2 separate regions of the Homo sapiens genome follow, and region 2 is linked to region 1. Evidence: fine-mapped expression QTL. A gene starts in region 1. The other region holds a variant in brackets. All regions are shown on one strand. Distances are between the middles of the regions. Region 1 holds the start of KLHL42 (kelch like family member 42). Region 2 overlaps LOC105369709 (a long non-coding RNA gene).

Region 1 (5,372 bases):
GTTATATGGGGATTTTTGACTGTGCAGGGTTTGGTGTCCCTGGCCCCCACATTGTTTAAGGGTTAACTGTATTTATACAAGTATACATATAATTTACAGTATAAATGTTTATACATTTATAATATCTAAAGGTAACAAAAGTCTGTTGATACACTGACACTTTTTTTCTGTACCCTGAGGGCAGACATTTACTCTTTTTACTCCACAGTTTTGTGTGTAATTTGCAGTTTTTCTAAGAATCATGCATTCATGCATTACTTGAATGCTTTTTTTTTTTTTAAGGGGATGAAAAGGGCCTTCCTAGAAAAAAAGACAAAGACTACCAAGGATGTATGAAGGGAAGAAAGAAGTGTGAGGAACTGTGGCACTAAGGATGGCCTGGTGAGCACCAAATGATGTGTAGCTAGAGGAATGCAAGAGGAGTGAGAGAACTCAGGGCCGCCCACCCCTAATCAGACCACCACCCATGGCCACACAATGTTCCTTTGTTGTTTCAATTACAGTGCATAGAATTTGTTTTAAAATAACACTTCTGATACCAAATTTTAAATATGGTATCATCTCAATGGTGTAAATAATGCATTAAAAATGGGCTGGCAGGAAATATGCCAACCTGGTTACTGCCTCTAGGAAGAGCGGGTAGGAATAATCATCTTTTTGCTTCTTCATTCTTTTCCATTTTCCAGTTTTCTGTAACTATGTATTATCAGGGGAAAAAGCATACTTTTCAAAATGAATTTCATATTATAGGAGAAATAAAGCCAGTTATTTCCCCCAAATAATCCCTGGCCGAGGAGGACCCTCGAGTCAAATAAACAGATATATAAAGGATTCTCTGTTACTGTTAAGACTTTCTTTGCCCAGCTGTGAGCTCCCCAACTCCTTGCTCCACACTTCAGGACCAGGACCCTGTGAGGATTGAGATGGAAACACGTGGATGGGAAGAAAGGGTATTTTCATCCTTTCTTGAGTTACATTGATTCTTTTCCCTGCTTCTGAATGACGCTGAGGCCTCCTAGGCGCTACCATCTTTATTTCCTACCATCTCTTCCTGTATATGCTCTTTGCTCTTGTTTTGATATTCCTTCCCTGGTTCCTTTCCCTTCTCCCCTCTCATCCCACTCCTCAAGCTCCTCCTCTTCCTTTCTTCAAGTCACCCTTGTTGGAGGCAGGAGAGATTTGCAGGATGGGAGGGGGAGAAGGTTGCGTAAATGAAAATATTCCAATTCTGTAGTTGAACACTTCCAGGCTCAAGCTGTGGGTCATGACGATGGCTGTCCAGGGAAGGAAGCAAAAGAGAGGATAAAAAATAAGAAAAGCAACCCCTATTGCAAACGTTAATACATTTCCAGTGATTATCTCTTGATCATGATGGGTATCACAGTGTGGAAGACTCTGTTGTCACAGTCACTGACATCAGAAAAAAATCCCCCAAAGTCAGTGTTACAGGTTACTGTCCAGTGTATCATTATCATCAGGATCAAATCCTAAAAACTAAGACAAATTTTTTAAAAATTAAGGGGCAATTTTCTTTTAAAGTATTCTTGTAGGAAACCACAACATCTTTTTTCACAAGAACAGAGGCAAAGAAAGCAGTTTCACCTAAAGGCACAATACCTGCCAAAAAACCACTCCACTTCTTGACCTCACTGGGGACGTCCTCTTCGCAATTTCTTAGTTCATTGGGAATTTTGCCAGCGCCAAGGCCAACAACATTCCTGAAGATGTCATTTCCACCACAGCACACCCTCCCCTATTTACTGGCTCAGTAAACACTGGGGTAATGAACTAATGAACAAGTGAATGAATGAGAAGGCAGCAGCACTCTGCCGGGGTGCTTACCTCTTCTGGTTCATGGAGGCCACCTGGAGCCACTCGTTGGTGCTGGGGTTGTAGGAATGCGCAGCGGAGATCTCCTGGCTAGTGATCCTGTACCCGCCCACTATGAAGAGGTAGTTGTCCAGGATGGCAGACCCATAGCCCCTGACATTGACCAGGTCGGGAGGAAGGTTGTTGGCCAGCGGGAACCAACGCTCAGTCATCTCCTCGTACCTGAGCATGGACGGGGGCTCCCCCTGGTAGGGGTGAGGGGCCAGGGGTCCCCCCAGGAAGTCCCCGAGGGCCACGAGGACAGGAGTCCCAGTCATCCGGGCCTCCCTCAGCCTCTGCTTCAGGCTGACATCCCCTGGAGCTTGGGGAGGAGACCCCAGGAGGTGGAACTGGGGCTTGCACAGCACCTCGTGGAAGTGGACGACCATGAAGCGCAGGCAGGCCTCCTGCAGGTCGGGCAGCCCGTACACCTGCGCCAGGCGGTACATCTCCAGGCAGTTATTGAGCCGCACCTGGGACAGCAGCAGCTGCAGCAGGGACGTGACCTGCAGGAAGGAGGCCGCCTCCACCAGCTCGGACAGCAGGCTCACCTCATCCATCTCCTCGTCCTCGTCCACCCCGCCGCCCTTTTCCCCGCGCGGGCCCAGGAGCCAGCCTTCGCGGGCCCCGCCGGCGTTGATGAAGTCCAGCACCAGCCGCAGGCCCGGCGCGCTGAGGCCGCGCAGCTGCTGCACCTCCGGGCCGCCGGCCTCCTGGCTCAGGGCCTCGCGCATGCCGGAGCGGTAGAGGGCGCGGAAGTAGTCGCTCTGCTCGATGAGCTTCCTCTTGCTCACCGGGTAGCAGCGGTCCTCCAGGCGGATCTGCACCATCTCCTCGGCCGACATGGCTGGGGGCCCCGGGGCGGCAGCGCTCACCGCCAGATCTGCGCGCCGGCCTCCCAGCCCCTACGCGCGCGCCGGTTCCGGGCGGGGCGCCGAGGGATGGCGGCCCGGGAGGAGCGGCGAGGTGAGGGCCGCCCGCGCTCGCCCGGCCTCTCCGGCGGCCCCTCCTCCCGGGGCCCGCTCCCGCGAGGCGGCGGCCCTGCCCTTCTCCTTTCCCTCAGCGCCAAAAAAGGGCCGGCGGAGCGCGGCGGGCGTCCTCGCGCGGGCTCTCCCGGGCGGCGCCAGGCGGGAAGGGAATTCCAGCTCCCAGCCAGCAGCCTCCTCCCCCGCCGCCCTTCTCACTTCCGCCCGCGGGACCCCAGCCGCCGGCCTGACCTGCCGGCTGGATCCGGCTCTCGGGGAGGCCCGGGAAGCTGCGGGCCCGGGCGCCTCGGCTGCGGACGCGCAGCTGCGGGAGGCGGAGGGCGCGCGTCCCCGCAGCCTCTCCGCCCGCCCGGGGCGCGCCGGCTCCGCCGCTTGTTGGGGGCTGCAGTGATGCTCCGGGGTACCCCAGGGAGAAGAAATTCGTTTTCTCTCCCACGCTGCTTTACACGGGCTAAAGAAAAAGAAATGAGCGTGGGAGGAAAGGGAAGGATGGAGTCTCTGGTCCAGGGAGACAAAAAGGCATCAAATATGGGGTCGTCCTTCTGGCCCAGTCCGGCATCGAGTGTCAGTGGGCTGAGGCACGCAGGCGATCTATGGACAGTTGGTGGCAATGTTGGTGGCACGTAGAGCTGATTCTCTGGTAGCGTGGTCGCGTAGGAGCCATCTTACAGGAGGTCCAGGCAGATGGCAGCAGGTTCTCAGAGGAATCGGGTTGGGAGGCAGGGGAGCTTGCATTTGCCACTGGGGCCCCTTATTCTCCCTAAGTTATTAAAAGAAAGATGAAAGCGCAGCCCGACTAAATAAAGTTACATCACGTGGCTTCTGGTTTTAAACCATGTTTTCTATGAGCCATTGCTTTTCTACTTCAGTCCAGTCCATTACGGAATGTTATCCTGGCGCAAAAGATCTGACAAAATTGGCTCATAAATGTCTGCAAGAAGTAGCTTTTCTTGTCACCCCCTTTCTCCACCTACCCTGCCCCCATCATCTGAGGACTATTAAGAGAGACCACACGTGCGGTTTGGCTGAGCGCGGTGGCTCACGCCTGTAATCCCATGACTTTGGGAAGCCCAGGTGGGCAGATCACGAGGTCAGGAGTTCGAGAGCACCATGGCCAACATGGTGAAACCCCGTCTCTACTAAAAATACAAAAATTAGCCGGGCGTGGTGGCACGCGCCTGTGATCCCAGCTACTCGGGAGGCTGAGGCAGGAGAATTGCTGGAACCCGGGAGGCGGAGGTTGCAGTGAGCCGAGATCGCGCCACTGCACTCCAGCCTGGGCGACAGAGCGAGACGCCGTCTCGGAAAAGAGAGACCACTTGTTTCCTATGTTCTCTCACTGAACATTGCAATTAGAAGGCCCACCCCAAATAATAATAGGAAGGACTTTTTGTCTTGCTAATGAATTCATCCCAGGAAGGGGGTGGGGGGAGAAATATATTGTTTGGATTATCTTTGGGTAGGAGAAGGGAGAAGGATTGGGAGGAAGCAGAGGGTGTGTTCACTCTTATCTTACAAAACAAAAACAGAAAACCTTGAAAACTTACCCCAAACCAAGATTTGAGAACCACCTATGATAAACAGTCCTTAACTTGGAGAGAATATGTGTTTGGTTTTTTTTTTTATTATTACAAGCTTCAGCTTTCTTCTTGAATGACAGATTGTTAAATAATATCTTCTTCATAAGTACATTTCCCCTATTTAAAGAAGATACATCCTACCATGCTAACATTTTACCTTAGGAAGGAGAAAGGGTTAAAAACCAGAGAACTAAAAGAAAGTCAAAGGTGAAACATGAGATCCTTTCAACATAGTTTGGTTACATTTGTGGTTCTTACTACGAAATTTATCTGCTTCACAGAGAGGTGTTGTTGTCATCTTTTACTTTGTTTATTATTATTACTTGGGAAAGGAGGTTTATCTTTTTATTTTTTAGAAAAAAAAATGCATTTTTTTTTTTTTTTGAGACAGAGTTTCCCTCTTGTTGCCCAGGCTGGAGTGCAATGCTGCGATCTCAGCTTTCTGCAACCTCCACCTCCCGGGTTCAAGTGATTCTCCTGCCTCAGCCTCCGGAGTAGCTGGGATTCCAGGCATGAGCCACCACACCCGGCTAATTTTGTATTTTTAGTAGAGACGGGGTTTCACCATGTTGGTCAGGCTGGTCTGGAACTCCCGACCTCACGTGATCCACCCACCTCGGCCTCCCAAAGTGCTGGGATTACAGGCATGAGCCTCCATGCCCAGCAAAAAAAAATGCATTTTTTTTTTCCATAGAGATAGGGTCTTGCTACCTTGCCCAAGACAGACCTCAAACTCCTGGCCCCAAGGGATCCTGCCACCCCAAGTGATCCTGCTGCCTTGGTCTCTCAAAGCACTACTGTGCCTGGCCTATTTTCTTTATAATAATGCTAGGAATAAGGAACTAAAAAATAAAAGACATAGAAAATGTTCTAGTAGATTCTGGCCTCCCTGGAAAAAAATGAAGGAAATAAAAATGGATCTATGACTTACTCAGTT
Region 2 (5,372 bases), 28 kb before region 1:
CTCTACACAGCACTCACAGCAGCTGCCGTTTCATTTCAGCCTTCTGCTAGTAAGATTGACCCTGCTCCTTATACAGTAGAGCCCGAATAACTTTACAAACTTCAGAAGGAAATAGAAGGGCAATTGTGCCAGAAAGACAATAACCACCATGCTTTACAGAGACCTTTGAGCAGGCACCATGATGGAAAATATTTTGAAGCGATGCAACAAATCCAGGAGTATGAGACATTAAAACCCCACTTCATTTTACAAAGCTGCCTCTGAAGATCGGTGAAGCTTGAGACCCACAACAGAGCAGAAAAGACTTCAGAACAAATAAACATCAGCACTGCTAGAAAACACCTACTCACCTCTCTGAAAACTGAGCTGGGAAAACAAACAGTCTTTCTTTACATTTTAGTGGCTCCGAATCACCCTGCATGAATCTGCTGCAGTGGAGGGTCTGGCCGTTTTCCCACCAGCCCGGAGGCACAGAGAGCCAGAATACAGCATTCCCTCTCCATCACAGGCATTCACACCAGCAGTGCTGGCTACACTGTGACAGGACAGCTTGGTGGCCACACCCAAATCCAGAATCCAACAATGGCACCAACAATCCTAGGAAATACACAACCTTCCATTTAACTGCTTCAGATCTCTTCCTTCCAAGCATCTCTTCCAAAGAAAATGCGATCTGGAAGTCCTCCCGTACTTCTCTGTGTATGAGTTTGTTTTGTTGTTGTTGTTTGTTTGTTTGTTTGAGATGGAGTTTTGCTCCTGTCGCCCAGGCTGGAGTGCAGTGGTGCGATCTCAGCTCACTGCAACCTCTGCCTCCCAGGTTCAAGCGACTCTCCTGCCTCAGCCTTCTGAGTAGCTGGGATTATAGGAGCCCACCACCACGCCTGGCTAGTTTTTGTATTTTTAGTAGAGACAGAGTTTCACCACGTTGGCCGGGCTGGTCTCAAACTCCTAACCTCAGGTGATCCATCTACCTCGGCCTCCCAAAATGCTGGGATTACAGGTGTGTGCCACCACGTCCGGCTGAGTTGCTGGTTTGTTTTTTTTTTAATAATAGCAATGACTACTTGTGACCCGCCTGCACTCCCTCACCAAAGCCCCTTCTGCAGACATGCCAGATAATGAGGAAGGGGAGCAAGTCACTAAATAACTGGATTTCTTTCAGGGGCACCTTCTGTGAGGTTATGACCTTGATGACCTAGGAGTAGTGATCACAAGAAATATATGCAGCTATCACATATGGAACATCTAGCGCATGTGAGATCCGGTGGGAAGTGTTTACAGACATTTTCTCTGGTAATCCTCACAAGAAACCAATAAGGAAGCTGGCATTATTACCAGCATACCACAAATGAAGAAACTGAGGTCTGTAGGGTTAAATGCAGGTCACTAGCTAGTGAGAATAAAACTGGTATTTTCATCCAGGCCGTTTGACTCCAGAACTCTCAGAAAGGGATATCTGGGGATAGCATTCTGGATCATTCCAGAACAATGCTAAGCATAGGACAAGGGCGTGCATGTCTAGGATGGACTGAGTGCAGGGCCATATCCTCAAGGCACACAGGTGAAGCACTGTAATACTTTTGGAGGTCCATAAAAATGTTTTCATTGTAATTTATTTTAAAACCAGAAGAAACAGCTGGGTGTAGGGGCTCATACCTGTAATCCCAGCACCATTTTGGGAGGCCAAGGTGGGAGGATTGCTTGAGTCTAGGAGTTTGAGAACAGCCTGGGCGACACAGTGAGAGCACCACCATCTCTACAAAAAATCAAAAGTTAGCCAGGTGTGTTGGCACAGGCCTGAAGTCCCAGCTATTTGGGAGGCTGAGGCGGGAGGATAGCTTGAGTTGAGGAGGTCCAGGCTGCAGTGAGCCATGATCATGTCATTACACTCCAGCCTGGGCAACAGAGCGAGACCCTGTCTCTAAAAATATAAAAAAGAAGAAAAACATGAGTATAACAATAATGAATGGGTAATAATGAGTCCAGCCTGGATTATACTGGTCATTATACAGAGTCGTAAAATATGATTTTTAATCTTGTTTTACCAAGGAAGGGACCCATGAAGGCAAAAATGCCGAGGGCCCACAAAAGTCATGAGATGGCTGGAATCCGGGGTAATGTAGATGGCATTGCTGTGGGCAATAACTAGATGGGAAAAAATGTAGAATGTTCTCTCACAATTAGGCTGCCTTGGTTAAAATAAAACGTGTTCCAAATCAATGCCTCAGAAGGATTATGGAGTTGCCACAGTTTGGGCTGTGAAATAGTCCGTGAAGATAATAATAAACAGTGCTAATGAATGTTCCCCATCTGTTCTTTCTCCCCTTAATGGCTATCAGATAAGAGAACGGAATAAATCAGCAGCCTTTGTACGCTGTCTAATATGCCATAATGTGAGCCCTGGCCTTGGGTCTGTTTGTGTTATTTTCTTAAAATAGTCACAGAG[A/C]AGGCCCCTGGAGAGTTCCTTTTTCCCATGACCTGCCCAGACCAGAAGGCTTAGGATGACTCTGGTCCTCAGAAACAAAAGCCAAAGAAAAAAAAAAGCCAAGAAACCAGGCATGGTGGCTCACGCCTGTAATAACAACATTTTGGGAGGCCGAGTTGGGGGGAATCACTTGAGGCCAGGCAGCCTGGCCAACAAGGTGAAACGCCATCTCTACTAAAGATACAAAAATTAGCAGGGCGTGGTGGCATGCACCTGTAGTCCCAGCTACTCAGGAGGCTGAGGCAGGAAAATCGCTTGAACCTGGGAGGCAGAGGCTTCAGTGAGCCAAGAAGGTGCCACTACATGGGCAACAGAGTCTTTCTCTGTCTCAAAGAAGAAAAAAGAAACCTAAGACAAAGGAATCAGGTGATTCCCGGGATTAGAACAACACTGTCTTGACTCTACCACTGAACACTTGGCTTTGCTCTGAAGAATCCCCCTCCCTCAATGGGTACGGTCTCGGTGAGACTTCCCAAGGGGCCCCATCCCATCCCCAGCCTAGGGCTGGACATGTGACCCCAGCAGGACAATCAGGGTGCTCACTCCTTCCATTTCCATTCAGGGCTCATGGCACGAGACCTAAAGTGGGTTGGAGTTTCTGTCCCATTGGTGGAGCCCCGAAGAGATTGTCCTTGAGTTCCCAACTGCCAGAGCTGCCATCGTTTCTGTTTCTTTCATGTCCTATTAAAGATTGAGTTAAATCCTATCTTTTTAGTAACTTTTCTTTCCTTCCCTTCCTTCCCTCTTTCCTTCCTTCCTTCTTTCCTTCCTTCCTTCTTTCCTTCCTTCCTTCCTTTCCTTCTTTCTTTCTTTTTTCTTTCTTTCTTTCTTTCTTTCTTTCCTTCTTTCTTTCCTTCTTTCTTTCTTTCTTTCTTTCTTTCTTTCTTTCTTTCTTTCTTTCTTTCTTTCTTTCATCAGCTAGAGTCAGTGTCTGTTGGTTTTTTAAAAAATCCTGACTGGTGGGTACCTTCCAGGTACTGGAAGGTGACAGAAATTAGCCTCCATGGGACACTGAACACTGACAGCACTGAATTCATAGACATTATTTAACATCTGTACCTGCTAACTCATGCACTCAGCTAAGAAAGGTACCGTGTTTTTTCATTAAAAGTTGAAATCAAGGTAAGGCTAACGGTCTACGGCCATACCACCCTGAACATGCCCGATCTCATCAAACTATGGCTAACGGTATAGGATTTACCTATCCTGTTCTTTCAGACTTGTAATTATTAAAATGACATTATTAGGCATTAAAATGACACGCATCATGGGGATGTGGGGAGGTGGGGAAGGTAGGCAACTCAAAGCAAACTTCATTTCAGGCAGTGCGCCCCTTCTCAATGAATGGCATGTGAAGCAAACAGCACATTTTAAAAGGTTTTTGAGATAAGATTTAGTACCTGTTTTGAGCTGAACGGTGCCCCCTACCTCCTTAAAAAAAAAAATCAGCGTATCTTTTTTTTTTTTTTAAGGAGGCAGGGGGCAGAGGTTGCAGTGAGTTGAGATCAGGCTACTGCACTTCTGCCTGGGAGACAAAGCAAGACTCTGTCTCAAATAAATAAACAAAACCAACAGACAAACATATACATACACACCAGATTGTATAAGAAAAGTCACCACCAGCCACAGACCACTTGTTATTACAGTGCCTCTTTCTAGATCTCTTGCCTCTGACTTCTTGTCTTCCTACCCAGCAGCACCTCGAAATCCACCAGGGCTGAAAGTAGCCTGAGCAGCGGAATCTCTGCCCCTAGACTTCCTCAGGAAACCCTTCACAGGCCCACATGGGGGTCAGACCACACTTTCTGACAACAACATCGCCTACCTTTTCTACATCTCTTTCCGCTGGCATTCAGATTCTGAATAACTGTGTATTTGTGCCATTCAATTCAGATTTTAGAAAAAAAAAAAAACAGTTCTACGAGTGACAATAATATCACTCAAGCCCTAATATTGATTCTAGTGATGAGAAAATAATGAAGCGACGGGGCTCCATTCCCATTTGCCTGCGGGGCCCCCTGAACTCCTAGGCGTTTGCCTCACTACTGTCTGTGGGCAAACTTCCTTTCCAGCCACAGCCAGAATTCGAAACTTCTCCCATCTGCGTGACGCATTATGTACGTTGGTAGAAGAGAAAAGTACACTGTTTTCCTAATAACCGTTGTTCCTCAAGAAAACACTTTTTTCCTATAAGGAAATTTTAGGGCTACATAAACCAGAAACCTATATATTTTCAGAAAACCCAAGGAGGCTTCAAAACCTTTCCAATTTAACAAATACTTCCAGAATCTGCTGTGTTACATGGCTCTGGTGTATGTCCTGACATAGAGTGATAAAAAGATTAATGAAACACTCTATCATCAAGGAAACTACAGTCTAGAAGAGGAATAAGACAAGCACATAAGAACTGTTCTATGAGACAAATATGTGTGCCCTGAGAGAGAGATAGCTGAAGCTGTATCCAGGAACAAGTATTTTCAGAAGGCTTATCTTCCATAACACTGTAAACCAACCAGCTAGCTCACTTACCAAGACTAACAGCTTCCCCATCAAGGCTAGCTTAGGGGATGTGAGGGTGATCTGCCTGTGACAACTCTCACCCCACTGATCGCCAGGGTTGATTCGACTGATCTGGCTGGCTAGATGGGTGACCCCTTCCTCCCTCACTGCTCCATGTGCGTCCCTCCCGAAACTCCACGCTCAGTCGAAGAGGACAACCATCCCCAATAGAGGAGGACCAGTCTTGGGTCAAGGGTGTATGAGTAGCTGCGCTCCCCTGCTGGAACCTCCAAACAAGCTCCCAAGATTAGCTTTGGGACTCTCACTGCATTGTGCCCACAAAGTCCTATGCCCAAAGTTCTTGTATCAGAAACTCTGCCCAGTGTTG

What was found.
Region 2: its variant is fine-mapped to the expression of KLHL42 in pancreas (GTEx, PIP above 0.99).

The regions. Positions count from the first base shown.
Region 1 is chr12:27,777,673-27,783,044 of GRCh38, reverse strand. KLHL42 (kelch like family member 42) reads right to left here and starts at 2,812. Exons shown (of 3, transcript NM_020782.2): 1 at 1,843-2,812. The coding sequence starts at 2,714. It overlaps MANSC4 (MANSC domain containing 4), which reads left to right and starts at 2,809. Exons shown (of 4, transcript NM_001146221.5): 1 at 2,809-2,835. RefSeq lists an enhancer at 2,296-2,795 and silencers at 2,661-2,970, 2,991-3,210.
Region 2 is chr12:27,806,069-27,811,440 of GRCh38, reverse strand. It overlaps LOC105369709 (a long non-coding RNA gene), which reads left to right. Exons shown (of 3, transcript XR_931459.3): 3 at 40-126. It also overlaps the pseudogene RN7SKP15. Among named protein-coding and RNA genes, the nearest start is that of MANSC4, 29 kb to the right of the region's middle. RefSeq lists an enhancer at 3,817-3,986. The variant A/C (reference allele first, on the strand shown) is at 2,447.